Linked DNA regions of Homo sapiens: region 1 is linked to region 2. The links come from fine-mapping of genetic effects on gene expression. A gene starts in region 2. The other region holds a variant in brackets. All regions are shown on one strand. Distances are from middle to middle.

Evidence for each region. PIP is the estimated chance that this variant, and not a neighbour inherited with it, causes the effect.
Region 1: its variant is fine-mapped to the expression of UBAP2L in blood mononuclear cells (TOPMed, PIP 0.95).

The regions. Positions count from the first base shown.
Region 1 is chr1:154,274,252-154,290,189 of GRCh38, forward strand. It overlaps HAX1 (HCLS1 associated protein X-1), which reads left to right. Exons shown (of 7, transcript NM_006118.4): 4 at 699-750; 5 at 903-1,009; 6 at 1,142-1,232; 7 at 1,365-1,624. The coding sequence ends at 1,450. It overlaps LOC124904806 (small nucleolar RNA SNORD59), which reads left to right and starts at 14,209; the gene lies at 14,209-14,276. The variant A/C (reference allele first, on the strand shown) is at 6,934.
Region 2 is chr1:154,211,048-154,226,985 of GRCh38, forward strand. UBAP2L (ubiquitin associated protein 2 like) reads left to right here and starts at 9,908. Exons shown (of 27, transcript NM_014847.4): 1 at 9,908-9,928; 2 at 14,037-14,166. The coding sequence starts at 14,077. It overlaps LTAP1 (lipid transport auxiliary protein 1), which reads right to left and starts at 9,543. Exons shown (of 7, transcript NM_001098616.3): 1 at 9,295-9,543; 2 at 8,789-8,890; 3 at 3,410-3,527; 4 at 2,846-2,899; 5 at 1,411-1,577; 6 at 1,273-1,331. The coding sequence starts at 9,360. RefSeq lists enhancers at 8,916-9,663, 9,242-9,681, 9,664-10,411 and silencers at 9,002-9,071, 9,932-10,081.

The DNA.
Region 1 (15,938 bases), 63 kb after region 2:
CTCAAAAATTGTTTGAGACCCAGCCTTGCTCTGTTGCCCAGGCTGTAGTGCCGTGGCACAATCTCAGCTCACTGCAACCTCCAATTCCCAGGTTCAAGTGATTCTCCTGCCTCAGCCTCCTGAGTAGCTGGGATTACAGTCGCCTGCCAAACGCCCAGCTAATTTTTGTGTTTTTAGTAGAGATGGCGTTTCACCGTGTTGGCCAGGCTGCTTTTGAGCTCCTGACCTCAGGTGATCCACCCACCTCGGCCTCCCAAAGTGCTGGAATTACAAGTGTGAGCCATCATGCCTGGCCAAAGATTGCAATTCTTGTTTGAATCTGATAGCCTTGGGTTGGAATCCTAAGCCCTCCATTTAGTGTTTTCTGTTTTCTATATTAAGCTTGTGGGATTTTCTTTGGGGGGAGATGGGTGTTCTGTTTCTTTTAAAAAACAAAAACAAAAAAACACCACTGGTCTAGATAATTCTTGGATAAGGCAGGATTGTGCACAGAGGATAGGAATATATCAGTTCAGGAAGTCTTTCTGGTAGAAGGATACATAAAACAGCCAGGAAGGAGTGTGTAAATAAGGCTATTCTGAATGGAATTATCTCTTCTGTGGAAGGGGGTTTTGGAGCTCGGGAGTAGTTTGAGGTCTATGACCTTTCAAATTTCAGATTGGAAGGAGTCTTTTCACTTACTATGGTTTCTTCTGCAGTTTGATGATGTATGGCCTATGGACCCCCATCCTAGAACCAGAGAGGACAATGGTAAGTCTGGAGGAAGGGGAAGTTTACCAGCCTTTTGTTATTCTTCTGAAGTTCTGTGTGTTCTCCCTCCCTGAAGTTTCTTCCTGTACACTTGTCTCCTTTTTTCCTTTGGACTCTTTCTCTCCTGCTTCTTCATCTCTCTGCTCTTCCAGATCTTGATTCCCAGGTTTCCCAGGAGGGTCTTGGCCCGGTTCTACAGCCCCAGCCCAAATCCTATTTCAAGAGCATCTCTGTGACCAAGATCACTAAACCAGATGGGGTGAGTTGAAAGAAAGAGGTAAAGGAAAGTATGGCCAGGGAACGAATGCCCTGAAACAGGGATCTGTGTAAAGAAACTGCTGAGCATAACCTTTAGTAACATTCGGAATATGGTGGGGACTTCTCTTTGTAGATAGTGGAGGAGCGCCGGACTGTGGTGGACAGTGAGGGCCGGACAGAGACTACAGTAACCCGACACGAAGCAGATAGCAGTCCTAGGGGTGGTAAGTTAAAAGACAAAGGGGTTCATCTCAAGATTCCTTGGGGAAGGGAAATCTTACTCTTCTACCCTTGTCCTTTGCTTCTGCCTAGTCTCTTTCATTTAGCCTATTTACGTGTATGACTTTCTTCCTTAGATCCAGAATCACCAAGACCTCCAGCCCTGGATGATGCCTTTTCCATCCTGGACTTATTCCTGGGACGTTGGTTCCGGTCCCGGTAGCCTTGTTAACCCTCAGAGGCCTTCAAGTCCTTTCCACCTCTCACCCATTGCCCACCATTAATAAGCTTAGCTTCTCTTGCCACCTCAGGGGCTTGGATATGTGGAATAGTGAACTGGGGCCATGTCAGTTTGTCACTCACCCAAACTGACCAATAAAACCTTTATTTATGCTAATTTTTTGTCTTGGTTTTGTCAAGGCTATTTCAGTTTCTAGAACCATCCAACACTTCCGAAATTATCTTGGTCCTCTGCCTTCTCCTTATTCCTTAATTTTTTATTCTGCATCTAAAACCTGATTTCATAAGTAAGGGTCAGGCACAAGTAGAAAATGATTTTTCTTTCTCAAGCAAGAAAAAAAAAAAAAGAGGCCGGGCTCGTTGGCTCATGCCTGTAATCCCAGCACTTTGGGAGGCTGAGACAGGCAGATAACCTGAGGTCAGGAGTTCAAGACCAGCCTGGCCAATGTGGTGAAACTCTGTCTCTACTAAAAATACAAAAATTAGCTGGGCATGGTGGCGGGTGCCTGTAATCCCAGGCTAGGGCAGGAGAATCGCTTGAACCTGGTAGGAGGAGGTTGCAATGAGCCGAGATCACGCCATTGCACTCCAGCGTGGGCGACAAGAGTGAAACTCCATCTCAAAAAAAAAAAAAAAAAAAAAAAAGAAAAGAAAAGAAAAAGAAAAATGATTTTTCTTACTGAGGAGATGACTAGAAATAATTTCAGGAAAATTTCTAGAGAGGGATACATCAGATTCCCAAAAAAAGGGTGTGGGTGTGGAAGTAGGGGTTAACTGCTTCCCTGAGTGTGGGATCACTGACTGGAGAGTTCATGAAGTAACTGGGGAAGCACATGGGTAAATTTCCCTTACTTTACTGGCCTTAAAAAGTTGTTATGTGGCTGGGTGTGGTGGCTCACGCCTGTAATCCCAGCACTTTGGGAGGCCGAGGCAGATGGATCACATGAAGTCAGGAGTTCGAGATTAGCCTGACCAATACGGTGAAACCCTGTCTCTACTAAAAATACAAAAATTAGCCAGATGTGGTGGCACATGTTTGTAATCCCAGCTACTTGGGAGGCTGAGGTAGGAGAATTGCTGGAACTCAGGAGGTGGAGGTTGCAGTGAGCCATGATCATGCCATTGCACTCCAGCTTGAGCAACAAGAACGAAATTCCATCTCAAAAAATTGTTATGTATGTTAGAGAAAATACACCTGGCACAAACGTTACTAGGTCCTTTTTTCTTTTTGAGGCAGGGTCTCATTCTGTCACACAGGCTGGAGTGTAGGGGGCGATGTTGGCCCACTGTAGCCTCGACCTGGGCTCAGTCCTCCCACCTCAGCCTCCTGAGTAGCTGGGACTACAGGCGTACACCACCATGCCTAGCTAATTTTTTTTCTCGTTTTTTTTCCTTTTATTATTATTATTATTTTGTATTTTTTGTAGAGACGGAGTTTTGCCATGTTGCCCAGGCTTCCTTTTCTCATTATAAAAGTTTTTAACCAGGTGTGTTAGACTGTACCTATCATCCTAGCTACTTGGGAGGCTGAGATAGGAGGATTACTTGAGCCCAGGAGGCGGAGGCAACATAGCAAGATCCTATTTCTAAAATATATATATATATATATATATATTTTTTTTTTTTTTTTTTTTTTTGAGATGGACTCTCGCTTTGTCACCCAGGCTGGAGTGCAGTGGCGCAATCTCGGCTCACTGCAACCTCTGCCTCCCGCGTTCAAGTGATTCTCCTGCCTCAGCCTCCCGAGTAGCTGGGACTACAGGCACGTGCTACCACGCCCAGCTAATTTTTGTATTTTTAGTAGAGACAGGGTTTCACCATGTTGGCCAAGCTGGTCTCGATCTCTTGACCTTGTGATCCGCCTGCCTCAGCCTCCCAAAGTGCTGGGATTACAGGCGTAAGCCACCACGCCCCGCAAAATATTTTTTAAAAATTGGCTGAGCAGGCTGGGCATCGTTGCTCACACCTATAATCCCAGCACTTTGGGAGGCTGAGGCGGGTGGATCACTTGAGGTCAGGAGTTCAAGCAGGCTGGGCACTGTGGTTCACACTTGTAATCCCAACACTTTGGGAGGCCAAGGTGGGCAGATCACTTGACGTCAGGAGTTCGAGACCAGCCTGGCCAACATGGTGAAACCCCAACTCTACTAAAAATACAAAAATCAGCTGGGTGTGGTAGTGCACACTTGTAATCCCAGCTACTTAGGAGGCTGAGGCGGGAGGATCATTTGAACCCAGGGGGTGGAAGTTGCAGTGAGCTGAGATTGTGCTGCTGCACTCCAGCCTGGTTGACAGAGCGAGACTCCATCTCAAAAAACATAAATAAATAAATTAGCTGAGCATGGTGGCCCACATCTGTAGTCTCAGCTATTCAGGAGGCTAAAACAGGAGGATCCCTGGAGGCTGGAGTTCGAGGCTGCGGTGATCTATGATCACACCACTGCATTCCAGCCTGGGCGACAGAGTGAGACCCAATCACAACAACAAAAGCTTTTAGTACTGTGGTTAAGAGGGGCAAATCTGGGGCCAGTCACAGTGGCTCACACCTGTAATCTCAGCACTTTGGGAAGCTGAGCGGAGAGGATCAATTGAGACCAGCCTGGGCAACATAGGGAAACCCTGTCTCTACAAAAAAATTTAAAAATTAGCTGGGCATGGTGGTGCATGCCTGTAGTCCCAGCTACTCAGGGGTCTGAGGTGGGACGTTGTCGAGCCCATGAGGTCAAGGATGCAGTGAGCCATGACCATGCTGCTGCACTCCAGCCTGGGCAACAAAGTGAGACTGTCTCAAAAAAAAAGGCCGAGAGTGGTGGCTCGCGCCTGTAATCCCAGTACTTTGGGAGGCCAAGATGGGCGGATAACTTGCTGTCTCTGCTAAAAATACAAAAATTAGCCAGGCAAGGTAGTACGGGCCTGTAATCTCAGCTACTCGGAAGGCTGAGGCATGAGAATCACTTGAACCCGGGAGGCAGAGGTTGCAGTGAGCCGAGATTGCACCATACACTCCAGCCTGGGTAACAGAGCAAGACTCCGTCTCAAAATATAAAATAAAAAATAAATATTTAAAAAAAAAAAGAGTGGTGGCCGGGCATGGTGGCTCACGCCTGTAATCCCAGCACTTTGGGAGGCTGAGGCGGGTGGATAGCCTGAGGTGAGGAGTTCGAGGCCAGCCTGGCCAATATAGTGAAATCCCGTCTCTACTAAAAATACAAAAAATTAGCTGGGTGTGGGGGTGGGCGCCTGTAATCCCAGCTACTAGGGAGGCTAAGGCAGGAGACCCTCTTGAACCCAGGAGGTGGAGGTTGCAGTGAGCAGAGATTGTGCCACTGCACTTCAGCCTGGGCGACAAAAGTGAAATTCCATCTCAAAAAAAAAAAAAGAGAGTGGTAAATCTGACATATTTATTTACTTCTGTTTCCTCTGGAAATCCCACTAAATTATGACAAAGGGATTTCTCTAAAGAGGTATATCACAAGAACAAAGGACAGGAGATGATAGTAATGAAGCTCTGTCTTTTAATTCTCTATTGTATCTTTTGGTGAACAGAAGTTGATTTATTGTAGCCTAATTTATCTTTATAAGTTTGTGTTTTACGTTTAGGTTTTTAGACCTACCTGGAATTTTTGTTTGTATATGGTATTAATTTGGGTCCAATTTGGAAAAAATATGCACAAATATATAAATATTTCTTTTTAAAAAACAAGGTTGGGCACTGTGTCTCCCGCTGGTAATTCCAGCACTTTGGGAGGGATAGGTGGGAGGACTGCTTGAGCACAGGAGTTTAAGACCAGCCTGGGCAACAAAGTGAGACCCCCCCACCATCTGTACAAAATAAAAATTAAAAAATTAGTGGGGCATGGTGGCATGTGCCTGTAATCCCAGCCACTGGGGAGGCTAGGGCAGGAGAATCACTTGAGCCCAGGAGTTTGAGGCTGCAGTGAGCCATGATCACGCCACTGCACTCCAGGGTGTCAGAGCAAGACCCTATCTCAAAAAATAAATAGGCTGGGTGCGGTGGCTCATGCCTGTAATCCCAGCACTTTCGGAGGCCAAGGCGGGGGGATCACGAGGTCAGGAGTTCAAGACCAGCCTGACCAACATGGCGAAACCTCGTCTCTACTAAAAATACAAAAATTAGCCAGGTGTGGTGGCGCATACCTGTAATCCCAGCTACTCAGGAGGCTGAGGCAGGAGAATCGCTTGAACCCAGGAGGCAGAGGTTGCAGTAAGCAGAGATCATGCCACTGCACTCCAGCCTGGGCGAGAGGTGAGACTCTGCCTCAAAAATAAATAAATAAATAAATAAGTAAATAAATAAATAGGCCGGGTACGGTGGGTCACGCCTGTAATCTCAGCACTTTGGGAGGCTGAGGCAGGTGGATTACCTGAGGTCAGGAGTTCAAAACCAGCCTGGCTAGCACAGTGAAACCCCATCTCTACTAAAAATACAAAATTAGCCGGGCATGGTGGTGGGCACCTGTAATCCCAGGTAAAAATAAATAAATAACTAAAACAGCCCCAAAACAATAGCAACAACAACACACACACATGCACACACACAACTGTGCTGGGTCTTTCTATTCTATTAGTCTATTTGTCTATATTTGTGCCCATATCATACCTTAAAATACTATAGTTTTATTTAGTAAAACCAGTCTTCCTACCTTTTTATTATTTTTTAACCCTTCTATTGTATAAAAATACAATTGTTTTTTCTAATCAGCTTTTTAGAGTACCATCACAAATATAAATGGAGCTAAAAATCACCAGATATGTGAAGAAAGCATTTAACATGAGTGGTAGAGACAAACGAAACAACTTGAAAGAAACAGAGACTATGCAGAGAGATTAAAAACTTTAAATGTACACAATTTTTTTTTTAGATGGAGTCTTGCTCTGTTTCCCAGGCTGGAGGGCAGTGGTACAATCTCATCTCACTGCAACCTCCACCTGTAAGTGGAGGCTCAGGCGATTCTCCTGCCTGAGCCTCCCGAGTAGCTGGGACTACAGGCTCAAGCCACCACACCCGGCAATTTGTTTTTTTTTTTTTTTGAGACAGTCTCACTCTGTTGCCCAAGCTGGAGTGTAATGGCACGATCTTGGCTCACTGCAACCTTCGCCTCCCGAGTTCAAGTCATTCTCCTGCCTCAGCTTCTCAAGTAGCTGGGATTACAGGTGCATACCACCACGCCTGGCTAATTTTTGTATTTTTAGTAGAGACGGGGTTTCACCATGTTGGCCAGGCTCTTGAATTCCTGACCTCAGATGCCCGCCTCGGCCTCCCAAAATGTTGGAATAACAGGCATGTGCTACTGCGCCCAGCCTACATTTCTGAGTTTTTAATGGAGACAGGCTTTCACCATGTTGGCCAGGCTGGTCTTGAACTCCTGACCTCAAGTAATCCACCCACCTTGGCCTCCCAAAGTGCTGGGATTACAGGCATGAGCCACTGCACCTAGCCTATTG[A/C]TTCATATTTCTAAGCACTATAAAGATGTATGTACTTGGCCGGGTGCAGTGGCTCATGCCTGTAATCCCAACAGTTTGGAAGGCTGAAGGGAGAGAATGGCTTTAGCCCAGGAGTTGGAGACAGTCTGGGCAACATAGTGAGACCCGTCTCTACAAAAAATTAAAGATTAGCCAGGCAGGGTGGTGCACACTGTAGTCCCTGCTACTGGGAAGGCTGAGGTAGGAGGATCGCTTGAGTCCAGGAGTTCAAAACTGCAATGAGCTATGATTGTGCCACTGCACTCCAGCCTGGGTGACAGAGTGAGACTCTGTCTCTAAAAACAGAAATAAAACCCACAAATGTGATAGAGTTCAACTCTCCAAAGTTGAACTCTCCACAAAGTAAACAAAATAACTGATCAAAAAATAAGAGAAAAAAGGCTGGACGCAGTGACTCACGCCTATAATCCCAGCACTTTGGGAGGCCGCGGCGGGCGGATCATGAGATCAGGAGATCGAGACCATCCTGTATAACACGGCGAAACCCCATCTCTACTAAATATACAAAAAATTAGCTGGGCGTGGGGGCGAGTGCCTGTAGTCCCAGCTACTTGGGAGGCTGAAGCAGGAGAATGGCGTGAACCCAGGAGGTGGAGTTTGCAGTGAACCGAGATCACGCCACTGCACTCCAGCCTGGGAGAGAGAGTGAGACTCCATCTCAAAAAAAAAAAAAAAGAAAAAAGAAAAGAAAAGAAAGAAAAACATAAAACTAGAACGGCATAAATTATCAATGAAATAAGTCATGAAAATATTCCAGAATTGAAGAATATTACTTAATTTTTTTTGAGACAGAATCTCACTCTGTCACCCAGATTGGAGTGCAGTGGCACAATCATAGCTCATTGCAGCCTCGAATTCCTGGGCTCAAGCAATCCTCCTGCCTCAGCCTGAGTGGCTGGGACTATAGGTGTGCACCACCACACCCGACTAATTTTTGTTTTTTGTTTTTTGTTTTGTTTTGTTTTGTTTTGTTTTTGGTAGAGACGGTGGTCTTGCCATGTTGCCCTGGCTGGTCTCCAACTCCTGGGCTGAAGTTATCCTCCCACCTCGACCTCTCAAAGTGCTGGAATTACAGGAAAGAGCCACTGTGCCCGGCCTGAAGGATATTACTTTCTAACCTGAAAGGACTTGCCACATGCCAGACACCAAGGGTGAAAATAAACCCACTCTAAGGCATGCCATATGAAATTTTAGAACACTGGAGACAACAGAGTTTAAAAGATTCTAGAGGGAGAGAGAAAGAAAAATGGGGCACATGTTCTCAGGATCTCCTGAGGGCTGTGTCAGTGGATAACAAAATAACCTAAAGGATCAAGAATCATAATATTCTCAAACTTTATCAGCAACACAAAGTATAAGACAATGGAGATCCAGCAATCCAGCTACTAGGTATATATTCAAGGCAACTGAAATCAGTATGTTGAAGAGATACCTGCACTGCCATGTTCACTGCAGTACTGTTCACAATAGCTGAGAGTAGGAATCAACCCAAGTCTCCTGCAGTGGGTTAATGGATAAAGAAAATGTGGCATATATACACAATGCAGTACTATTCAGCCTTACAAAGGAATGAAGCCTGGCTCGGTAGCATGCTCATGTTGTCTCAGCTACTCAGGAGGCTGAGGCAGGAAGATTGCTTGAGCCAGGGAGTTCAAGGTCAGCCTGGGCAACATAGCGAGACGTCATCTCTAAAATAAAGACATTCTTTACAGAAAAAATAGAAAACAAAGAATGAGATCCTGTCATTTACAACATCGATGAACCTAGAGCACATTATGTTAAGTGAAGTAAGCCAGGCACAGAAAGACAAATACCACATGATCCCACTTATATATGGAATCTTAAAAAAACCTCATGCAGGTAGAGAGTAGAATGGTGGCTACCAGAGACTAGGGGGTGGTGAATGCTGGGGAGACATTGGTCAATGGATACCAAATTTCAGTTGGACAGGAGGAATAAGTTCAAGAGATCTATTGTACATCATGGTGACTACAGTTAATAACAATGTAGTTGGCTGGGCACAGTGGCTCATGCCTGTAATTCCAACACTTTGGGAGGCCAAGGCAGGAGGATCACCTGAGGTCAGGAGTTTGAAACCAGCCTGGCCAACAAGGTGAAACCCCATCTCTACAAAAAAATACAAAAATTAGCCAGGCGTGGTGGCACGTGCCTGTAATCCCAGCTACTCGGGAGGTTGAGGCAGGAGAATCACTTGAACCCGGGAGTCGGAGGTTGCAGTGAGCCGAGATTGCAACACTGCACTCCAGCCTGGGTGACAGAGCGAGACTCCGTCTCAAAAAAAAAATAAAAATAAAAATAAATAAATAAATAAATAAATAAATAAATAAATAAAATAAAAATAAAAAGTACTTGTCTACATTGGGAAGATGGAGGAACCAATGCATATATTTGTTGTGGGCAGTGCAATATGTAACTAAATCCTTATCTTCCATACTGTAAACACAATAATTAGTTTCTTTTTTTCTTTTTTTTTTTGAGATGCAGTCTCATGCTCTGTCCCCCAGGCTGGAGTGCAGTGGCACAATCTTGGCTCACTGCAAGCTCTGCCTCCCAGGTTCATGCCATTCTCCTGCCTCAGCCTCCCGGGTAGCTGGGACTACAGGCACCCGCCACCACGCCTGGCTAATTTTTTGTATTTTTAGTAGAGACAGGGTTTCACCATGTTAGCCAGGATGGTCTCGATCTCCTGACCTCGTGATCCGCCCGCCTCGGCCTCCCAAAGTGCTGGGATTACAGGCGTGAGCCACTGCGCCCGGCCAATAGTTAGTTTCTAAAACAAAAAGTAAGTATCACTGTAAGCATATTTAGGTATATAATGGTAAATATTAAAGAAAATATTTTAAAAGTTGGTAATGGTTGGCCAGGGCTGGTGGCTCACGCCTGTAATCCCAGCACTTTGGGAGGCCAAGGCAGATGGATCACCTGAGGCCAGGAGTTCAAGACCAGTCTGGCCAACATGAAGAAACCCCATCTCTACTAAAAATACAAAAATTAGCTGGGTGTGGTGGTGCACACCTGGAGTCCCAGTTATTCAGGAGGCTGAGGCACGAGAATCAATTGAACCCAGGAAATGGAGGTTGCAGTGAGCCGAGATCACACCACTGCACTTCAGCCCAGGCCACCGAAGGAGACTCTGTCTCAAAAAAAAAAAAAAAAAGTTGGTAATAGTTGCCTCTGGGGATTGGAAAAGGATGGACCATATTGACACTGAAGTCAGGAAGCTGCTATTTTTCATGTGTTGTAGAATTATTTGACTTTGTCCTGGTACAGTGGCTCATGATTATAATCCCAGCCCTTTTAGAGCCCTGTCTAAACAAAAAATATTAGCTGGGCGTGGTGGCATATGCCTGTAGTTCCAGCTACTGGGGAGGCTGAAGCAAGAGGATCACTTGATCCCAGGAGACTGAGGCTGCAGTGAGCTATTACTAGACCACTGTACTGCAGCCTGGATGACAGAGCAAGATCCTATCCCCCCCTCCAAAAAAAAAGAAAAAAAGAAAGAAATAAAAAAACAGAAAAGAAAAATGTTTAATTATTTCACTCTTGATATATCCATGTAGCCGGGCACAGTGGCTTACACCTGTAATCCCAGCACTTTGGGAGGCCAAGGCAGGTGGATCACCTGAGGTTAGGAGTTTGAGACCAGCTTGGCCAACATGGCGAAACCCTGTCTCTACTAAAAATACAAAAAATTAGCCAGGCACAGTGGCGCAAGCCTGTAGTCCCAGCTACTTGGGAGGCTGAGGCTGGGGAACTGTTGAACCCGGGAGGCGGAGGTTGCAGTGAGCAGAGATTGTGCCATTGTACTACAGCCTGGGTGAGAGAGCGAGACTCCATCTCAAAAAAAAAAAAATCCATATATTAGCAATAAATTAAAAATTTAAATTTATAAATGTAATGCAAAAAAAGTGAGTTAATGTAAAGAAAATACATTTATAGCAGTCTTGACATTTGACAGGGTTGATACAACAGACCAGTGGAGGAAGAATGGATTGTTTTTTTTCTTTTCGAGACAGAATCTTGCTCTGTCGCCCAGGCCGGAGTGCAGTGGTGCAATCTTGGCTCACTGCAACCTCTGCCTCCCGAATTCAAGCAATTCTCCTGCCTCAGCCTCTTGAGAAGCTGGGATTGCAGGTGTGCGCCACCATGCCCGGCTAATATATATATATATATATTTTGTATTTTCAGTAGAGATGAAGTTTCACCGTGTTGGCCAGGCTGGTCTCAAACTCCTTCCCTTGTGATCCACCCATCTTGGCCTCCCAAAGTGCTGGGATTACAGGCGTGAGCCACCATGCCCAGCCTGGATGGATTGTTTTAAGAGATGATTTTGGAAAAACTGGAAGAAAAGAAAATTACATGCATGCCAGTTCAGATGGATTGGAAATACAAAGCTTATAGGTGAAACTGTTAATGGTGGAGAGTGTCCAGGTTCTTGGCGTCTTGAAAGAAGAATTGGACTAAATGCACAAACAAAGCAAGGAAGGAATGAAGGGGTTTATTGAAAATGAAAGTACACTCCACAGTGTGGGAGCAGGCCCGAGCATAGGGGCTCAAAGGCCCTGTTACAAAATATTTGGGAGTCTAAATACCACTCTAGAGGTTTCCATTGGTTATGTGGTGTACACCCTATGTAAATGGAGAGGATGAAGTAAAGTTACAAAGTCATTTACTTGGCCTAGGCCCTATGGAGAGGTTATTTCCTGTCATAGCTGAAGTGTGAATTGGCCTTATGTTCCCTGCCTCCAGACCCTATTTTCCTGCCTCAAATCTATAGTGGTAATAGAAGAACCTGTGTTCTTTCTGACTTTGAGGCAAAGGAGGGCTTCTTAAATAAGACCCCAAAATACAAACCATAAGTCAGACAATGGGTTAATTTTTTATATCAAAATTAAGGGGCCAGGCATGGTGGCTCACACCTGTAATCCCAGCCCTTTGGGAGGCCTAGGCGGGTAGATGACCTGAGGTCAGGAGTTCGAGACCAGCCTGACCAACATGGTGAAACCCCGTCTCTACTAAAAATACAAAAATTAGCCAGGCATGGTGGCGCATGCCTGTAATCCCAGCTACTCGGGAGGCTGAGGCAAGAGAATCGCTTGAACCTGGGAGGTGGAGGTTGTGGTGAACCGAGATTGCACCTTTGCACTCTAGCCTGGAAAACAAGAGCGGAACTCTGATTCAAAAAAAAAAAAAAAAAAATTAAGGGCTGAATGTGGTGGCTCACGCCTGTAATCCCAGCATTTTGGGAGGCTGAAGTGGGCAGACTGCTTAAGCTCAGGAGTTTGAGACCAGCCTGGGCAACATGGTGAAACCCCATCTCTACCAAAAATACAAAAAATTAGCTGGGCATGGTGGCACGTGCCTGTGGTCCCAGCTACTTCGGAGGCTGAGGCGGGAGGGTCACTTGAGCCAGGGAGGTGGAGGTTGCAGTGAGCCAAGAACGTACCATTGCACTCCAGCCTGGGTGACGAAACCCTGTATATATATATATAATTAAATAATCCTGCTCAATAATGGAAACTATAATCAAAGGTAATAGTGAATAGACCTAGGGCGGAGTTTGCAAAATTTAAAGCAAGCAATGGGTTAATATCTAGACCACACAACCCACTCCTCAAATCAATAAGGCACTAAACTAAAAGCAAGAAAATAGGGCTCCCTCTCCCTCTCCCTCTCCCCACGGTCTCCCTCTCCCTCTCTTTCCACGGTCTCCCTCTGATGTCGAGCCAAAGCTGGACGGTACTGCTGCCATCTCGGCTCACTGCAACCTCCCTTCCTGATTCTCCTGCCTCAGCCTGCCGAATGCCTGTGATTGCAGGCGCACGCCGCCATGCCTGACTGGTTTTCGTATTTTTTTGGTGGAGATGGGGTTTCGCTGTGTTGGCTAGGCTGGTCTCCAGCTCCTAACCGCGAGTGATCCACCAGCCTCGGCCTCCCGAGGTGCCGGGATTGCAGACGGAGTCTCCTTCACTCAGTGCTCAATGGTGCCCAGGCTGGAGTGCAGTGGAGTGATCTCGGCTCGCTACAACCTCCACCTCCCAGCAGCCTGCCTTGGCCTCCCAAAGTGCCGAGATTGCAGCCTCTGCCCGGCCGCCACCCCGTCTGGGAAGTGAGGAGCGTCTCTGCCCGGCCGCCCATCGTCTGGGATGTGAGGAGCCCCTCTGCCTGGCTGCCTAGTCTGGAAAGTGAGGAGGGTCTCTGCCCGGCCGCCATCCCATCTAGGAAGTGAGGAGCGCCTCTTCCCGGCCGCCATCCCATCTGGGAAGTGAGGAGCGTCTCTGCCCGGCCACCCATCGTCTGAGATGTGGGGAGCACCTCTGCCCTGCCGCCCCGTCCGGGATGTGAGGAGCGTCTCTGCCCGGCCGCCCCGTCTGAGAAGTGAGGAGACCCTCTGCCTGGCAACCGCCCCGTCTGAGAAGTGAGGAGCCCCTCCGCCCGGCAGCCGCCCGGTCTGAGAAGTGAGGAGCCCCTCCGCCCAGCAGCCACCCCGTCTGGGAAGTGAGGAGCGTCTCTGCCCGGCAGCCGCCCCGTCCGGGCGGGAGGTGGGGGGTCAGCCCCCCGCCCGGCCAGCCGCCCCGTCCGGGAGGTGAGGGGCGCCTCTGCCCCGCCGCCCCTACTGGGAAGTAAGGAGCCCCTCTGCCCGGCCACCACCCCGTCTGGGAGGTGTACCCAACAGCTCATTGAGAACGGGCCATGATGATAATGGCGGTTTTGTGGAATAGAAAGGGGGGAAAGGTGGGGAAAAGATTGAGAAATCGGATGGTTGCCGTGTCTGTGTAGAAAGAGGTAGACATGGGAGACTTTTCATTTTGTTCTGTACTAAGAAAAATTCTTCTGCCTTGGGATCCTGTAGATCTGTGACCTTACCCCCAACCCTGTGCTCTCTGAAACAGGTGCTGTATCCACTCAGGGTTGAATGGATTAAGGGCGGTGCAAGATGTGCTTTGTTAAACAGATGCTTGAAGGCAGCATGCTCTTTAAGAGTCATCACCACTCCCCAATCTCAAGTACCCAGGGACACAAACACTGCGGAAGGCCGCAGGGTCCTCTGCCTAGGAAAACCAGAGACCTTTGTTCACTTGTTTATCTGCTGACCTTCCCTCCACTATTGTCCTGTGACCCTGCCAAATCCCCCTCTGCGAGAAACACCCAAGAATGATCAATAAAAAAAAAAGAAAAAGAAAAAAAGAAAATAGGTAAAAAACATGATTAAGCACTCACTGATGAGTAGCTTCTGACTTTCATTCTGAGTTTGCTGAACCCAGATGCCATTCCTGGGAAGGAAAAAAATAAACATGGTAAGCAATCACAGAAGGGGAAATCTGAATACCAACAGTATAAATTAATCCTCTACCTTGAACGCAATCAGAAAAATGCACATTAAAATAATAATGAGATACCACTTTACACCCATCAGGTAGGCAAAAATTAGTCCGGTAATACCAAATATTAGCAAGATCCAAGATGAGAGGAAACAAATCCCTGCTGTACTCCTGGAGTGTGAGACATGCAGCCGTTTCCATTTTTGTAGTAAAGAATCTGGCAGAGCTTTGTGAAATTAAATATGCACATGCTCTATGACCCAGCAATTCTACTCTGTCGACCAAAAGAGTGGAACTCTGTAAAATATTTGAAGAGATTTATTCTGACTCAAAGATGACTGACCATGGCCTGTGACACAACCCTCAGGAAGTCCTGAGAACCTGTGCACAAAGTGGTTGGAGTGCAGCTTGGTTTTATACACTTTAGAGAAGAATGACACATCAATTAAATACATTTAAGACATACATTGGTTTGGTCTAGAAAGGTGGAACAACTCAAAGTGGGGGCTTCGAGGCTATAGGTGAATTTAAATGTTTTCTGGTTGACAATTGGTTAAGGTTGTCTAAAGAGCTGGGATAGATAGAAAGGGAATGTTCAGGTTAAGATAAAGATTGTGGAGACCAAAGCTCTTTTGAAGTCTCATAATGGCTGCCTTGGAGACAATAGGTGACAAATGTTTCCTATTCAGATCTCAGTTAGTCTCTTTAGGATTGGGAGGATCTGGAAGAAAAAGATGTATATATATATACACATATATATATTTATATATATGTATATGTATATGTATTTTTATATATATGTATTTATGTATAAATATATATATATATATATATTTTTTTTTTGAGATGGAGCCTCGCTCTGTCTCCCAAGCTGGAGTGCAATGGCGCGATCTCCACTCACTGCAGCCTCCAACTCTTGGGTTCAAGTGATTTTCCTGCCTCAGCCTCCCAAAGTGCTGGGATTACAAGCATGAGACACCGCCCCCAGCCCTGGCTATGTTAATAGAGATTCTTTATGGATGTAGATTTTCCCCACAAAGAACAGCTTTGCAGGGGCATTTTAAAATATGACAAAGAAACATGTTTTGGGGTAAAATATTTTGATTTTCTTCTTTGTCTCGTAATGTTATACCAGAGTCAGGTTGGAAAGTAAATCATGATATATAGGGTTAAATAAAACCTATCTGATGAGAATTTATGATTTGTAGGTCATGACTCCCCAGATCCCTTAGATAGGAATTTGGGCAAGATAAAAAAAATTAGAGTTTAGTCCTCAACTCCTTCATATACGTTACAGAGAAACTTGTGTCTAGATTCATAAGGGGTCACATGCAAGAATATTTATCACAGCATTATTTGTGGAAGCTCAATGTTAGAACTCAGTTTTGGGTGACTTTCATTAGCAAAGTAGAAAGGTTAAATATAAGCCTGGTGCAGTGGCTCACGCCTGTAATCCCAGCACTTTGGGAGGCTAAGGAGAGCAGATCACCTGAGGTCCGGAGTTCGAGACCAGCCTGGTCAACACGGTGAAACCCTGTCCCTACTAAAAATACAAAAATTAGCTGGGCATGGTGGCAGGCGCCTGTAGTCCCAGCTACTTGGGAGGCTGAGGCAAGAGAATCG
Region 2 (15,938 bases):
CCCAGCTGAAGTGCAATGGCATGATATCGGCTCATTGCAACCTCCACCTCCCGGGTTCAAGTGATTTCTGCCTCAGCCTCCCGAGTAGCTGGTATTACAGGAGCCCGCCAGCATGCCCAGCTAATTTTTGTATTTTCAGTAAAGACGAGGTTTCACCATGTTGGCCAGGCTGGTCTTGAACTCCTGACCTTGTGATCCACCCTCCTCGGCCTCCCAAAGTGCTGGGATTATAGGCGTGAGCCACCGCGCCCGGCCAAAAATAGATGTTATTTAATTCTTTTTTTTTTTTTTTTTTTTTTTTTTTTTTTGAGATGGAGTCTTGCTCTGTCACCAGGCTGGAGTGCAGTGGCGTGATCTCAGCTCACTGCAACCTCTGCCTCCTGGGGTCAAGCGATTCTCCTGCCTCAGCCACCCGAGTAGCTGAGATTACAGGCACGCACCACCATGCCCAGCTAATTTTTGTATTTTTAGTAGAGACAGGGTTTCACCTTGTTGGCTAGGATGGTCTTGATCTCTTGACCTCATGATTCGCCTGCCTCGGCCTCCCAAAGTGCTGGGATTACAGGCGTGAGCCACCGCGCCCGGCCCAATGTTATTTAATTCTTACTTTTATTGGGCCAAGACACAAAAGGGACGCTGAGACTCTGAAGAGAAGGAATCCCTGTGTGTGCTGAAAAACTATTCCCTTTGCTAGGCTACACCAATTTTGACATTTTATTGGGCTAAACAAAAGACAAGAAAAATGCACACAAGAAAAATGCTAGTAAAAACTTCTTTTACTAGCTTGTATAGTTGCATCTGCTTTCTTTTCTTCTTTTTTTTTTTTGAGACAGAGTTTCACTTTTGTTGCCCAGGCTGGAGTATAATGGCACGATCTTGGCTCACCGCAACCTCCGCCTCCCGGGTTCAAGAGATTCTCCTGCCTCAGCCTCCCCAGAAGCTAGGATTACAGGCATGCGCCACCACGCCCGGCTAATTTTGTATTTTTAGTAGAGAACGGGGTTTCTCCATGTTGGTCAGGCTGGTCTCGGATTCCCAACCTCAGATGATCCTCCCGCCTCGGCCTCCCAAAGTGCTGGGATTATAGGCGTGAACCACTGTGCCCGGCCGCATCTGCTTTCTAATGTAAGAGACTGATCTAATAGTCTAGAACCTGACAACTCTTATGGTATCATGGATTTTGTTTATATGCTTTATGAAGGTCACTGCACTGTGGCAACAGTCCAACACTACTGTACCAGCTCCCTCTGACACGTTCCCCTCCAAACTCACGCAGTGGCCAGCTCACTCAGGGCCTCCTGATAGCGTAGGTACTCATTCTGGCCAAAGACCTTAGGAAAGAGAAAGGAAGAGTGAGGATCTCTCAGTCTGAGGGATCTCTTTAGTGCCCCGAAGAAAAAACTGGCTTACCCCTGTCCCATAGCGGGCTGTTTCATAGCCATCCAAAAGGGTATCAATGAGTGCTTTGCGTACACCCTTGAAAGGCGTACTAGTGTTTCGCAGATCCAGCAGGTAGGAGCGGAAATTCTTGCCCATTAAGGAACGGGGATGCCGGCCTTCAGAATGAAATGGGATCTCTGTGGAGAAAACAGCACAATGATATCTCTTCTCATTCTTTAGTCTTTTTTTTTGAGATGGAGTCTCGCTCTGTCACCCGGGCTGGAGTGCAGTGGCAGTGATCTTGGCTCACTGCAACCTCCACCTCCTAGGTTTGAGCAATTCTCTAGTCTCAGCCTCCTGATTAGCTGGGATTACAGATGTGCACCACCATGCCAGGCTTATTTTTGTATTTTTAGTAGAGACAAAAATACAAAAGGGTTTCACCTTGTTGGCTAGGTTGGTCTTGAACTCCTGGCCTCCTGTGATCTGTCTGCCTCGCCCTCCCAAAGCGTTGGGATTACAGGCATGAGCCACTGCGCCTGCCCCATTCTTTAGTCTTTCTAGTTAATTCCCCAAACTTAGAAGTAGGTCTAATGAAGCTGGGCGCAGTGGCTCACGCCTGTAATTACAGCAATTTGGGAGGCCGGGGCAGGCAGATCACCTGAGGTCAGGAGTTTGAGACCAGCCTGGCCAACATGGTGAAAACCTGTCCCTACTAAAAATACAAAAATTAACCAGGCATGGTGGTAGGTACCTGTAATCCCAGCTACTCGGGAGGCTGAGGCAGGAGAACCGCTTGAACCCAGGAGGTGGAGGTTGTGGTGAGCCAAGATCGTGCTACTGCACTCCAGCCTGGGCAACAGAGCAAGACTCCGTCTCAAAAATAAAAAGAAATAGGTCTAATGAAATGAGCAAGTTGAGTTAGAGGGAGATTCTGATTGAGACCAAAGGTATAAAGCTGTGCCTGAGTGGTCATTTGGTGGTAACACCACAGTTGTAAGCTACATCTATGACACATGATAGTGTCATCACACATTTTACCATCCTGCTTACTCATCCATCCTAGGTTTAAGATATAAACTGTTTTCATAGAGATAAAGCATATATGACAAGTGTTGACAGAATGGAAAAAATTCAAGAACAATCTATCTTGGGCTTAGTGAAAAAGCAGGTGCCACCTGTCCTTTGTGGAAAAACAAGCAAATTACTATCATCTACTTCATGAAACTAAAGGTCTCAAGAGAAGAACTTTAAAAAACAAAACACCCAGACTCTTTGGAGAATAACCTGCTTATATCATTTCCTTCAGCAAAATCTCTAATCTAGTACTTTCAAAACTCTAGAATTTCCTACTAGCCAGGGATGTGCAGAAAGGACAAATCCTAACATACAAAGTGGGTTCATTACTCTGTTCCCTAGGTGGGCTTTCAGGATCCTAGAATGGACCCTGTCAGGTAGCCCTTACCAGAGGTACGAATGGCATCCAGAGCTTTCATCCTATACAGATAGTTGTAGCAACCTGTTGAGGAAAAGACTGGTGTTAGGCATAACCCTAAAAATATTCCCCAGGCTGGGCGTGGTGGCTCATGCCTGTAATCCCAACACTTTGGGAGGCTGAGGTGGGTGGATCACCTGAGGTCAGGAGTTTGAGACCAGCCTGACCAACATGGAGAAACCCCGTCTCTAGTAAAAACACAAAATTAGCCAGGCGTGGTGGCGCATGCCTGTAATCCCAGCTACTCAGGAGGCTGAGGTAGAAGAATTGCTTGAACAAGGGGGTGGAGGTTGCAGTGAGCTGAGACTGCACCATTGCACTCCAGCCTGGGCAACAAGAGTGAAACTCCATCTCAAAAAAGAAAAAAAAAATTCCCCAAACTCCAGCAAGCTAATAAATGGGCTCTGCATCTAACATATATCCAATAACAGGAATAACTAAGGCTTTGCCAGCAGCTTTTGACAACTCTGAGAGAAAAGGAATTCTGGACTTGTGGGACTCCTCACTGAAGCATTCCAAGAGCTTGCCACATACTTTGATTTCCCTGGGTTTCCAGTTGTAGTAGTCTAGCATCATCATCTGCAAGGAGCTGGGGCTCATACTTGATATCCTGAACCCTGGAGAGTCGAATATCAATCTCCTCTTTCAAGTCCTGTTCACATAAAAAAAGAATACACAATCATTTACCCTGCACTCTGCTTTCCACCAATGTGAAAATGGGGCAGAGTTAATGAATAACTAAGACAACAGAAATAGAGACCATGCTCATGTAGTTAATAAAATTACCAGATAAGAGGTAAGAATTTAGGAAAGAACGGGATTGGGTTTTCCAATAACCTCTCCAAGCTGCACATCTCTAAGCTAGAACATTTAACTTGTGCCAGAAATCCTTCAAGCTATACAGCACCAACATTATTTCCAATTTTTTTTTTTTTTTTTTGAGACAGAGTCTTGCTCTATCACCCAGGCTGGAGTGCAGTGGCGCAATCTCAGTTCACTGCAACCTCCGCCTCCCAGGTTCAAGCAATTCTCCTGCCTCAGCCTCCAGAGTAGCTGGGATTATAGGCGCGTACGACCATGTCTGGCTAATTTTTCTATTCTTAGTAGAGATGGGGTTTCACCATGTTGGCCAGGCTGGTCTCAAACTCCTGACCTCAAGTGATCCGCCTGCCTTGGCCTCCCAAAGTGCTGGGATTACAGGTGTGAGCTACTGCGCCCAGCCTCTCTTGCCTCAGCCTTCTGAGCAGCTAGGATTACAGGTATGCACCTAGCTAGAGGCTACTTTAAAAAAAAATTAACACATATTTCTTTTAAAATAGCCAAGTCAAATTCATGGTATACAAATTTTAAAGATAGTAAAGGGGCCGGGTGCTGTGGCTCACGCCTGTAATCCCAACACTTTGGGAGGCCGAGGTGGGTGGATCACAAGGTCAGGAGATCGAGACCATCCTGGCTAACACGGTGAAACCCTGTCTCTACTAAAAATACAAAAAATTAGCCGGGCGTTGTGGCGGGGTCCTGTAGTCCCAGCTACTCGGGAGGCCGAGGCAGGAGAATGGCGTGAACCCGGGAGGCAGAGCTTGCAGTGAGCCGAGATTGCGCCACTGCACTCCAGCCTGCGTGACAGAGTGAGACGTCTCCAAAAAAAAAAAAAAAGATACTAAAGGTAGCACCTCTCAGTTACCCAGCAGCAACTACTATTTTCAGTTTCATATTAATCTCTCTTACCTAAGAGGGTTACCAGAGCCCCAGGAAATAAATTTTTTGTTGTAACTTTTTACAAACTCCCATTGTGAAACATAAGATACACAAAATACAGGTAACATAGATGTACATTTTAAATAATTATAAAAAGCATAATAATGAACACCTATAACCAATATCCAGTTTATGCAATGGAACATTACCACTAACTTTCTTTTTTTTTTTTTTTGAGACGGAGTCTCGCTCTGTCGCCCAGGCTGGAGTGCAGTGGCGCAATCTCAGCTCACTGCAAGCTCCGCCTCCCGGGTTCACGCCATTCTCCTGCCTCAGCCTCCCGAGTAGCTGGGACTACAGGCGCCCGCCACCACGCCTGGCTAATTTTTTGTATTTTTAGTAGAGACGGGGTTTCACCTTGTTAGCCAGGTTGGTCTCGATCTGCTGACCTCATGATCCACCCGCCTCGGCCTCCCAAAGTGCTGGGATTACAGGCGTGAGCCACCGCGCCCGGCCCTACCACTAACTTTCAAGTCTTGTGTGCCCATCCCTCATTGAATGCTCCGCACCCCAAACCTTAACTTGTCAATAGTCCTCATACACTTCTTCACTGTTTTATCGTGTCACCCTAAAAAAGATGCTTAGCTTTGCCTGGTTTTCAACTTGATACAAATGGAAAAATACTTTAAGAATCCCTCTGCAACTTGTTTAAAAAAAAAATTTTTTTTTTTTGAGACAGGGTCACACTCTGTCACCCAGGCTGGAGTGCAATGGCACAATCTCAGCTCACTATAACCTCCACCTCCTGAGCTCAGATGATCCTCCTGCCTTAGCCTCCTGAGTAGCTGGGGTTACAGGCACACACCACCATGCATGGCTAATTATTAAACATTTTTTTTTTTTGAGATGGAGTCTTGCTCTGTCACCCAGACTGGAGTACAGTGGCATGATCTTGGCTCATTGCAACCTCTGCCTGCTGGGTTCAAGCAATTCTCCTTGCCCTCCTGCCTCAGCCTCCCAAGTAGCTGGGACTACAGGCGCATGCCACCATGCCCAGCTAATTTTTTGTATTTTTCGTAGAGATGGGGTCTCACCATGCTCGCCAGGCTGGTCTCAAACTCCTGACCTTGTGATCTTCTCATGTGGGCCTCCCAAAGTGCTGGGATTACAGGCGTGAACCACCGCGCCTGGCCCATTTTTAAACTTTTTATAGAGACAGGGTTTCCCCATATTGCCTACGCTGGTCTCGAACTCCTGAGCTGACGTGATCAGCCTGCCTCGGCCTCCCAAAGTGCTAGGATTACAGGTGTAAACCACCTCGCCTGGCCTTAAATTTTTTTTTTTTTTGATACAGAGACTCACTCTGTCACCCAGGCTGGAGTGCAATGGTGTGATCTCTGCTCACTGCAACCTCCGCCGGGGCTCAAGTGATTCTCCTGCCTCAGCCTCCTGAGTAGCTGGGATTACAGGCACACACCGCCACGCCCAGCTAATTTTTTTGCATTTTTAGTACAGTCGGGGTTTCACCGTGTTGGCCAGGCTGGTCTTGAACTCCTGACCTCAGGTGATCCACCTGCCTCAGCCTCCCAAAGTGCTGGGATTACAGGCGTTAGCCACCGCACCCAGCAAAATTTTTCAAATATACTTTATTGAGGTTGAATTTACATACAATAAATGCATTCATTTTATGTATATAAATTGATGAGTTTGACAAATGAACATACCCCCTTCACCACCACGTCAATCAAAGTAAAGAATATTTTCATCACCTGGAAATCTCCCCTCTCCCAGCCCAGGCAACATGATGTACTCTTTTACAGTTCTGCCTGTTCTAGAATTTCATATAAATGGGGTGGAAGCACATGGTACATATTCTCTTGTGAACGGCATTTTGGCTTTCTTCACTCAGCATGGTTTTTTTGTTTTTGGTGAGACAGAGTCTCGCTCTGTCACCCAGGCTGGAGTGCAGTGGTTTGATCTCAGCTTACTACAACCTCTGCCACCTGGGTTCAAGGGATTCTCCTACCTCAGCGTCCCGAGTAGTTAGGATTTTTTTCTTGTATTTTTAGTAGAGATTGGGTTTCACCATGTTGGCTGGTCTGGTCTCGAACTCCTGACCTCAAGTGTTATCTGCCCAACTCGGCCTCCCTAAGTGCTGGGATTACCGGCATGAGCTACCATGCCCGGCCCACTCAGCATGTTTTTGAGATTCATGTTTGCAATTTTTTTCATTCAGAAGTATTTTGAGGACTTGTCTTCATATATTTATCTTCAGTTTTTCATTTTTTACACTATTCCAGAATATGAATATACCACTACCTATTTTTTAGAAACAAGGTCTTGCTCTTGCCCATGCTGGAGTGCATCAGTGCAATCATAGCTCACTGCAGTCTGTAACTCCTGGGCTCACATGATCTTCTGGCCTCAGCCTCCCAAAGTGCTAGGACTACAGGTATGAGCCACTGCACTCAGCCTATATAATAATTGAAAAGTGGACATTTGAATTAAGTTTCTTCTTCAAATATTATGAACAATGCCCCTATAAATAATCTTGCACATGTTTCTTGGTACACATGAGCAAAACTTAATTTCTCTATGGTAGGAGAGAAACTGTTGGACCATGGATTAGGTACATGTGCAATCTTACCAGACAATGACCAGTTATTTTCCAAAGTGGTTTTACTAATTTATACTTTCACTAGCAATGGTTGAGAATTTAGAAAAAATTTTTAAGCAAAAGGAATATTGCTCTGAACTAGACCAAGGGACCCCTGAATAGCCAAAGTATTGATTGGTTCATGATGTGCTAGAAACTAACCCTATGTCTTTCTCATGAGGCAGGCAGGACTGTTAAGGTTTCAAGCCAGGACATCCTCCTAGAGCCTTTTCATGTACTATGTCAGCAAAGAACAAAGAGGGGAAGGTTAATAGCACTTGTTAATGAAAGTACAGTGCTCTAGGAGTTGAGGGAGTCATGAGCTCTAGCTCTACAACTAACCTGTTTTTCATTCAGCAACAAATTACAGAGTACCTGCTATGTGTAGGCCCTGGCACTAACCTGTTTTTCATTCAACAAGAAATTACTGAGTACCTACTATGTGTAGGTCCTGGCTTTATAGTCGTGAACAAAACTGGCATGGTGCCTGCATTCTTGAAGCTTACGGTCTAGCGGAAGAGAGAGGCATGTTTTAAACAAATGGACAAACATAAAAATTATGGTAAATGCTATGAAGGAAAAATCAGGGTACCATGTGAAAATAAAGAGAGGGGGAACCTACTTTAAAATAGGTAATAAGCATTCCTTTTTTGGAAGTAACATTTAAGCTAAGATCAAAAGAATGAATGAGCTAGCCAATTGAAGACCATTCCAGATCACAGGAGCAAAAAGGGTGGAAAATTCAGCCAGTGGAGCTGGGTCCCAGTGATCTGGGGAGAGCCACACAAAAGGGGGTTGGTAAGGGAAGCAGGTGTCTTTTACTTAGAAGCGAAAGACTAAAGAAGCAGAATGAGAGTGGCAGTGGGATAGCAATAATTCTGATTCACAAATGTTGGGTTTGAGATGTCTACTACAAATCTAAGTGGAAATGTCAGGTAATCAGTTGGCAATATATGTAAGGAACTCAGGAAAGAGTTCTAGGATAGAGATAAAATTTCATCTGTAGCTAAAGCCAAGGAAAGGAAGACAGTCACCTAAGGAGAAAGTACAGACAAAGATAAAAGACCACTGGGTTATTCACTTCCTATACGTCTTCTGGTAAACTGCCTCCTTTTCTTGGGCTTCTTGGTAACATGAATGGTGGAATTAGATGATTTATGGAGCTCCTCTTAAGTCTAAAATTATGTAAAGGTAACCCTTCTCATTGCTCTTGGGTTAACCTTAATGATCTCAACCCCATCCTAATCAAACAAAAAACACTGGGTAGTTTAAGATGAGCTGGGAAATATTTTACTACAAACAGTTGGGAACTTCGACCCAAGCCCTTCATTCTGCAGATACAAAAACAGAAGTTCCAGGATGAGCCACATGCTTGCCACAGCACTGAGCAGGTAAGCCAAGTTCCAAAGCGCACAGTGCCTGCTCAACTTAGTAAGTACAAGGACAAGTGCACGCAAAGAAACATGAGAATTAAAGTCATCACTAAAGGCAGAGGAAATCTCATTCTTGACCCTAAAAGATCTGGAGAAGTATGTTTAACTTGTGCCCTAAGGACCTACCTTGGGGGCATTGTGTCCCACAGGGACATGAGGTCCCCTTCGAGATTTCATTGCAAAGCGCATGATTTGCCTCTTCACAAAAATAAATAGCAGTACAAACACCTGTCCAAAAAGATGTAAAAATCCTTTAATAAAAAGTCAGTTTTGTTTTGTTTTTTTTTTAAAAAAGCATGCCTTCATTCCAAATCCCCAGATTCCGGCTCTCAGGAATGTTTCAGGGTAAAACTTGGGGCAAAGCAAGGCCGTTATGATGGGGGTGGATCTAAGAAGCCAGCAGCAGGGAGGCGTGGGGTCTGTGCTCTAGCGTTAAAGGGAGGGTTCTAGACTAACGAGGGCGGGTCGGCCCGACTAAGTGACTTAAACTCCCACCTACTCCTGGAATAAGGAGTCAAAGCCCGGATAGGCGCAGGTGAGTGGGTGGAGAATGCAGACGGGGTACAGCTCAAAAGGAGGGTCTCTACTGGGTAAGATGCGACAGCAGGAATGGGGTGGGGTAATCTCCTCACCAGGCTCCCGTAGGCCATCACCAGCACGACATTCACCCCGGAGAGCCAGTTACTGCCGGACGCCATGGCCTCCCTACCTCGCGCAGAATTGTTCGGGTTTACCCCGCTGTCCTGGCTGGTCAGCCCAGGCTCCGCCGAAGCGACGGCGCCTGGGTCCCCTGGAGCTCCCCGGCCATTTCCTTACGGGGGAAGACCAAGCCAGACCCGGCCTGAAAACATGGCGGACAGGCAGGAGAGCTGGGAAAGGAGAACGACGCCTTCCAGCTTCCCCCTGACACGTGACTCAGGCAGGCAATGGCACCCAGGAGCGTCGAGCGCTCAGACGCGGAACTACGACAGTAAGAGGAAGCGGCGGCCATCCGTGCGTCACGTGGTGGAGGCAGGGCCGCCGTGAAGGAGGCGGGGTGGACTCGCGGAGCCGGAAAGAGGTGTCTCGTGGCGAGGCGGCACGCGCACGCTTGCGTGCGCGCCCCTTTTAGCGTCACGCGCTGAGGGACGCAGGAAGGCAAGTGGGCGGGGGAAGGCGCGAGAGCGAGCGCGAGAGGGAAAAGGAGGGAGGGGGTGGGGAAGAGGGAATCTTATATCACGTGACAGGGGCGGCGCGGCCCGGGGTGTCAGTGTGGAGGAGACTGAGGTAAAGTTGGGAGCGCAGCGGCGTTGGCGGCGGCGGCGGCGGCAGCGGCAGCGCGGCGGGGCCGGGTATTGTCCGCGGCCCCTTTAAATCCGCGATCCCCCTTTTACCCTCCCTCTTTTCTCCCCTGCCCCCGCCGTATCCCCTCCCTCGGTAGGCCCCCCCACACCGTGTGTTCCCCCACTGTACACCCCCCCCCGAGTCATGCGAGCCCTGGCGCCCCCCACCTCGAGTCGGCCCCCGGAGGTTTTGTTTATGGTTGGGTTCGCGGCCTAGTGGGCCGCGCCAGAGCCGGGGCCTCGATTTGGGAGCGTGGCCGGGGCGGGGCTTGGAGCAGCCGTAGGAAGGGGGGGCCATGCGGCTAGAGCCTGAGAGGGGAGAGCGAGAAAGAGCGCGAGCGAGCGAGGCCTGGGCCTTGCCTGAGGTAGGGCTCTCTCTTCACCCCGGCCGGTGCCTGCGGAGGAGAGGGCCTCCTCCCTTTCCACCCACTGCGGGCCTCCTCTGATCCGGATCCGGCCTGGTTTGGGGGTGGCGTGGGGGAGGGAGGGCGATGGGGTGGAGCTCCCCCAAACTCCCCCATGTGGCCCTCAGTTTGGTGTGCGAAGGATTAATTTGTTCCGGCTGGGAGGTAGGGAGGAGATTGGCCCCGTGGGCTCTCGATGTGGCGCTGAGGGGGGTGAGCCTCCCATCCTCCACCCGTGGGCTTGCGTCCCCTCTCCGTTTCCAGGCTCTTTGTCAGCTCCTCTTATTACCCTCCCTTCTTTCTCACCAACCCAGTTCTTGGAATATGTTTTTGCTGCTGTCTTTAGCTTCCTGTTTATACTGTAGTTTGGGTACCCCAAACAATTGTGTTATTTGGGAAGCTGGACATGGAGGCCCCCATAGGGTGTATTTACGCTTAAGGGACGTCACTAGAGCACTGGGGTATTTGTTCACTCTTCTCATAATGGTACAGGAATGCCCAGTTTCTTCAAACCCTTAACCTTGTGGACAGCCCTTAAATTGCTTTGCAAACTGATGTCACAAACTGGAGACTGCTCCTTTTCCACCATTCTTGAAATGTAGCCACCTCTGGTGTAGGATGTTGTGGAAAGAAAAACACCACAGTAACAGGCGTTTTTGTTATTATTGTTAACGTTTTTGCCTTTGACTCTCCCTGATTATTAAATGGAGAAATCCTTTTTTTTTGTCTTCTCTCCCATCCTACCTTCCTCCGCCGCATATCCTGTTTTGGGGATACCTGATGTGACTTGCTGGGAGGTGATGGACATTACTAGTAACCAGCGTTTCTAGAGAATTAAAACATTTTGGCTGTGTATCAGTTGATAAAACTGCTTTGAGATCTGTCTCCATTGTACTTAAAGATTAGACTATCCCAATGATTACAGAGAATTAAAACATTTTGGCTGTGTATCAGTTGATAAAACTGCTTTGAGATCTGACACCATTGTCCTTAAAGATTAGACTATCTCAATGATTGTTTCCTTTGTGAATGGGAAATATTGCTGGCACATAAACTAGTGATGAAAGGCCTAAAAATGTCCTGTTTTGTTTTTCATCTTTAAAGCTCCTCCTTGCTATGTCCTAACTGGGAAGTACTCTTACTAACTAGATATCAAGGTGGTGGGGAAGGGGATGCAGGGGCCATTTCAACAAAGCATCTACAGAAATTAGTTGTTCTGTTAGAGGTAGCAAATTTTACCCAACTCAGTCTAGCTTCAGTTTCTGAATTGTTTCTTAAATTAGATTGTAAGCTCCCTGAGGGCAGCTACTAAGTCATACTGCTTTTGTATTTTCCTGAAGTATTGGACACATAGTAGATTCTCAATAAATATTTGTTATTTAGTTTTTTCAGTGAAATTTCTCTGGCTATTTTTTTAAGTAGCTAGTTTTCAAAAAAGAGTCAAGGGCACTCCTGTGTTGAAACCTCTGTTTACTCTCGCACGATTTCCTTGGTCTCCAATACTTCTCACCCTACTTCCTTTAAATCTTTTTATTTTCTAAGAAAGAGCAAGTAAGTAACAAGATTCTTCATCTCCAGTGTGATAGCTGGGAATGGGTCTGCTTGCTACTAATTCTGTGCCCTCAAGTGATCCATTCCAGATCACTTACTTTTGACCTGTTGCTCAGTGTTGTCACTACTAGGTGGTAAAAATTTTCTTAGTCACATTTCGAAGCACTTGTAAGAGGGAAATGTTACTAGCAAGAGTGATTAGGAGAATTTTTTTCTTTCTTGGTTAATTATATCTTTCAAGATGACTTTTTAATATGTTTACATCTGACTGGTACAGTATATGCAATAGTGTATAGCTAGTCATGCAGTTTATACCTGCAATATAACTTATCCTCACAAATAGATATCACATGTGGAGTAGAAAACAGTCAATATTTGTAAGTTACAGTAGTGGGTTGGAAATGACTATGCCATATTAGAAACTTCATCTTAGAGCCAATTTTAAAACAAAATAGTTTTCCTCTCGTCTTTATATATATACGTATATATGTGTATATGTAGTCTTGTTGATTTGGATTCGGGGTACTTGGTTAAACATTTTTTTTTTTTGTAAAGTTGAAACGACTATAATGCTAACCTGGGAAAATGGGCTACTGTGTAGCAAATAATCCTTTCTAGCTTGAAATACTTATGGGCTTTTGTGTGCCAATATGTGTAGGGGGAAGAGGTAATGGGTTAAAAATTACCTGAGAAGCTACCTTAAAAAAATCTTTCTTGATACAAAGACCTATGCAACCTATTGACGCAACTTGGTGAAGAATTTATGCACAGAAAAAGTCAGCTTTCTCTGTGACATCCAAGAAAGTCAGATGAAATTCACTTCCCTAATAGTTAATCCTTGCATATTTCTTTAGAAGTCCTTCCTCCCACTCAAATCCAGTAATATCTCTGGGCAGTCTAGAATTACGTTGTATAAGGTTTCATTAACAAGAAAAATTAAATATAGAGCAGAAAAGTATAAACTTACCCTCTTTGGAAGGGAATAAATGCAGAGTAACCTATTATTTTGAACACTCTATCATATGATTAATGTTTTCTTTTTTACTAAATGCAGCAGCTGAGATTGTATTATAAAACAAAGTATGAACTAAAGGAACTTGAATTCAGTAGAATCCTTCCTTGTTAGAAGTCTTGTAACAAAAACTATATTCTGGTTTGGGGAAGGCCCTGTGTGTTCTGTGTCTCTTTAAAGACTCAACTAAGTCATCTTGCCAGCATTAAGGTCTCAAGTTTAAAATGATTTCTTAGAAGCACTTTCTTCCAAATAAAACTTTGTGCTAGATGCTTTTGGTTTGAGACAAATTTGAGATTCCCTGTATATTAAGGTGAGTGGTGGAGGGTAATTGCCATTTTGGTTTCTTGAAAATGTGGACTAGGAGACCAAGAGAAGCACCTGTAAAAGCAGTGTGTTGGAATTATTTTCCAGAGAACAGAGATTCTGGACAAAGTCATTGGGGCTAATACGTACCCTGTTGAAGGCTGTGGTTTAAAAAAACAAAAAACCCCCACAAACACAAAACAAACCCATAGCATACTGAGAGAGATGAAACTTGAGGGACAAAGAAGAGTCTAGACTTGAACTTGTCCTTTCCCAAGCAATGGAGGTCACATGCAGCTTACATAAAAAAGGTTGTAAGGCAGGTAAGGCTGTTTTCTTAGGTGATTGAATACAGTATTTAAAATTATTTCTCTGGAGTGTAGACTAATCTCCTTCCTGGAAGGTTTTTGTTTCCAGACTTTACTGATTATCTTTCCTTCTGTCAAAGGTACTTCAGATACTTGCATCTATGTAAAAGGCTTTTGATTATTAGTTAAATGTAAAGTCTGCTTATGGGGGACTAGTAACCAAACTGCTGTAACTTCTTAAAAAAATCCATCACTTACACATGCTTTATACATTTCTTGTTACATAAAAATGGATTAACAGCCATAGCTCCTTAAGGAATTTATCAAGCTAATTATGTTGTAAGAATAAATGAATCTTATTGATTTGTTCCTTTGAAGAAGTGAAAGTGTTTGGTGGTGAAGGTGCTGATGAGAGAGTTAAAAACATATTTTGCCCACATTTAATACCTAATTTTCTTTTAAATCTTTCAGTATTCTACCTTGTAAATACTGTTATTTGTATATACTGTAAATGATGACATCGGTGGGCACTAACCGAGCCCGGGGAAACTGGGAACAACCTCAAAACCAAAACCAGACACAGCACAAGCAGCGGCCACAGGTAAATAATCCAAGGCATACGGATTCATGGATAGCGTTGCCTGCTGATACTGGTTTCCATGCAGTACAGCATCATTCTGTGCTTTGAACTGTTGGTTTAGGTTCCTTATTTTTGTTTTCTAGTCCTTGGCTCTTTTTTTACTTAGGTCCTGATAACTGTTCATGACATGCTGTAAGGCAAGATGCTTACTTTTTTGTTGTTTAATACTGTATTATGAGGCTTAGCACTTTATTATGGGTCCTGTGCTTTTTATCTTTTTTTTTTTTGTTTTGTTTTAAGATAGGAGCTCCCTTTGCCTAGGTCAAAGTGCAGTGGCACAGTCACCATTCATTTGTAGCCTCAACCTCTGGGGCTTAAGTGATCCTCCCGCCTCAGCCTCCTGAGTAGCTGGGACTACCAGTGCACACTACCATGCCAGGCTAATTTTAAAATTCTTGTAGAGATGGTAGTCTTGCTGCATTGCCCAGGCTGGTCTTGAACTCATGGGATTATAGGTGTGAGTCACTGCCCGGCTCTATAACTCTTAAGATAGCATTTCCCTTCTCTTACCTGGGCCATTTTAGCAATACCTTTCTATTTCTTAGACCTTCCACCTTGATATCTCTCTCTTTTGTTTTTGAGACGGAGTCTCGCTCTGTTGCCCAGGCTTGAGTGCAATGGCGCCACTTCGGCTCACTGCAACCTCTGCCTTCCAGGTTCAAGCAATTCTCCTGCCTCAGCTTTCTGAGTAGCTGGGATTACAGGAGTGTGCTACCATGCCCAGCTAATTTTTGTATTTTTAGTAGAGACAGGGTTTCACCGTGTTGGTCAGGCTGGTCTCGAACTCCTGCCCTCAGGTGATCCACCTGCCTCGGCCTCCCAGAGTACTGGGATTATAGGCATGAGCCGCTGTGCCCTGCCCCACCTTGATACCTCTCTAGCAAGCCTTTTCCATTCCAGATTTTATCCTTTGCTCCTCTTTTCCCCAACTTGTCTTTTATTTTCCTCTCTGGTTCCATTGAGACCTTACCTGATTATTCCTTTCCCATGAGGAGCTGGCAACTTCACTATGTTTCTTCAAAATTAAATGAAACACCTTAGAGCATTGCTCAATTTTAAGTTTTAAAGAGTAAATTAACCTCTTGGATATTAACTTTGATGTAGATATATTCTGTTTCTCATACCAGGTTGATGTTAGTTGGTATGTAATGTGAATGAATTACTTATATTTGATTATGGTCAGATAAATCGAATATGTAAGATTAGGACATCCCCCTTACGCATTTTTCTTTCATCTGTGTTTTCAAGTGGATTTCTAGTAGAATTATAATACTTAGTTGGGGCAGTAAAATTCCTAGTATCTGAACATACACTGGATATATAGAAGATGTGTTGAGTCTATTGTCAGACTTGTATTCTAAGCTCTAGGAATAAGAGGATGGCGTTGGTTATTACAGAAATAAGAATAGAGTTTACACATGGCTTTGTGACTTAATATGAATTAAGGGGCAGATGTTTCAGAGCGGTTCTGTGATTCTAAGACGGAAGTCCCTTTAACTGTGAAGATTGGTGAATGAGTTCCTTACTCTTTCTGTAACAGTTTCACTCAATTTTTTGTCATTTTACTGATTTAAGCATCTTTTTTTTTGAGGTGGAGTCTTGCTCTATCACTTAGGCTGGAGTGCAGTGCCACTATCTCAGTTCACTGCAACCTCCTCCTCCCAGATTCAAGCAATTCTCCTGCCTCAGCCTCCCGAGTAGCTGGACCTACAGGTGTGCACCACCACACCCGG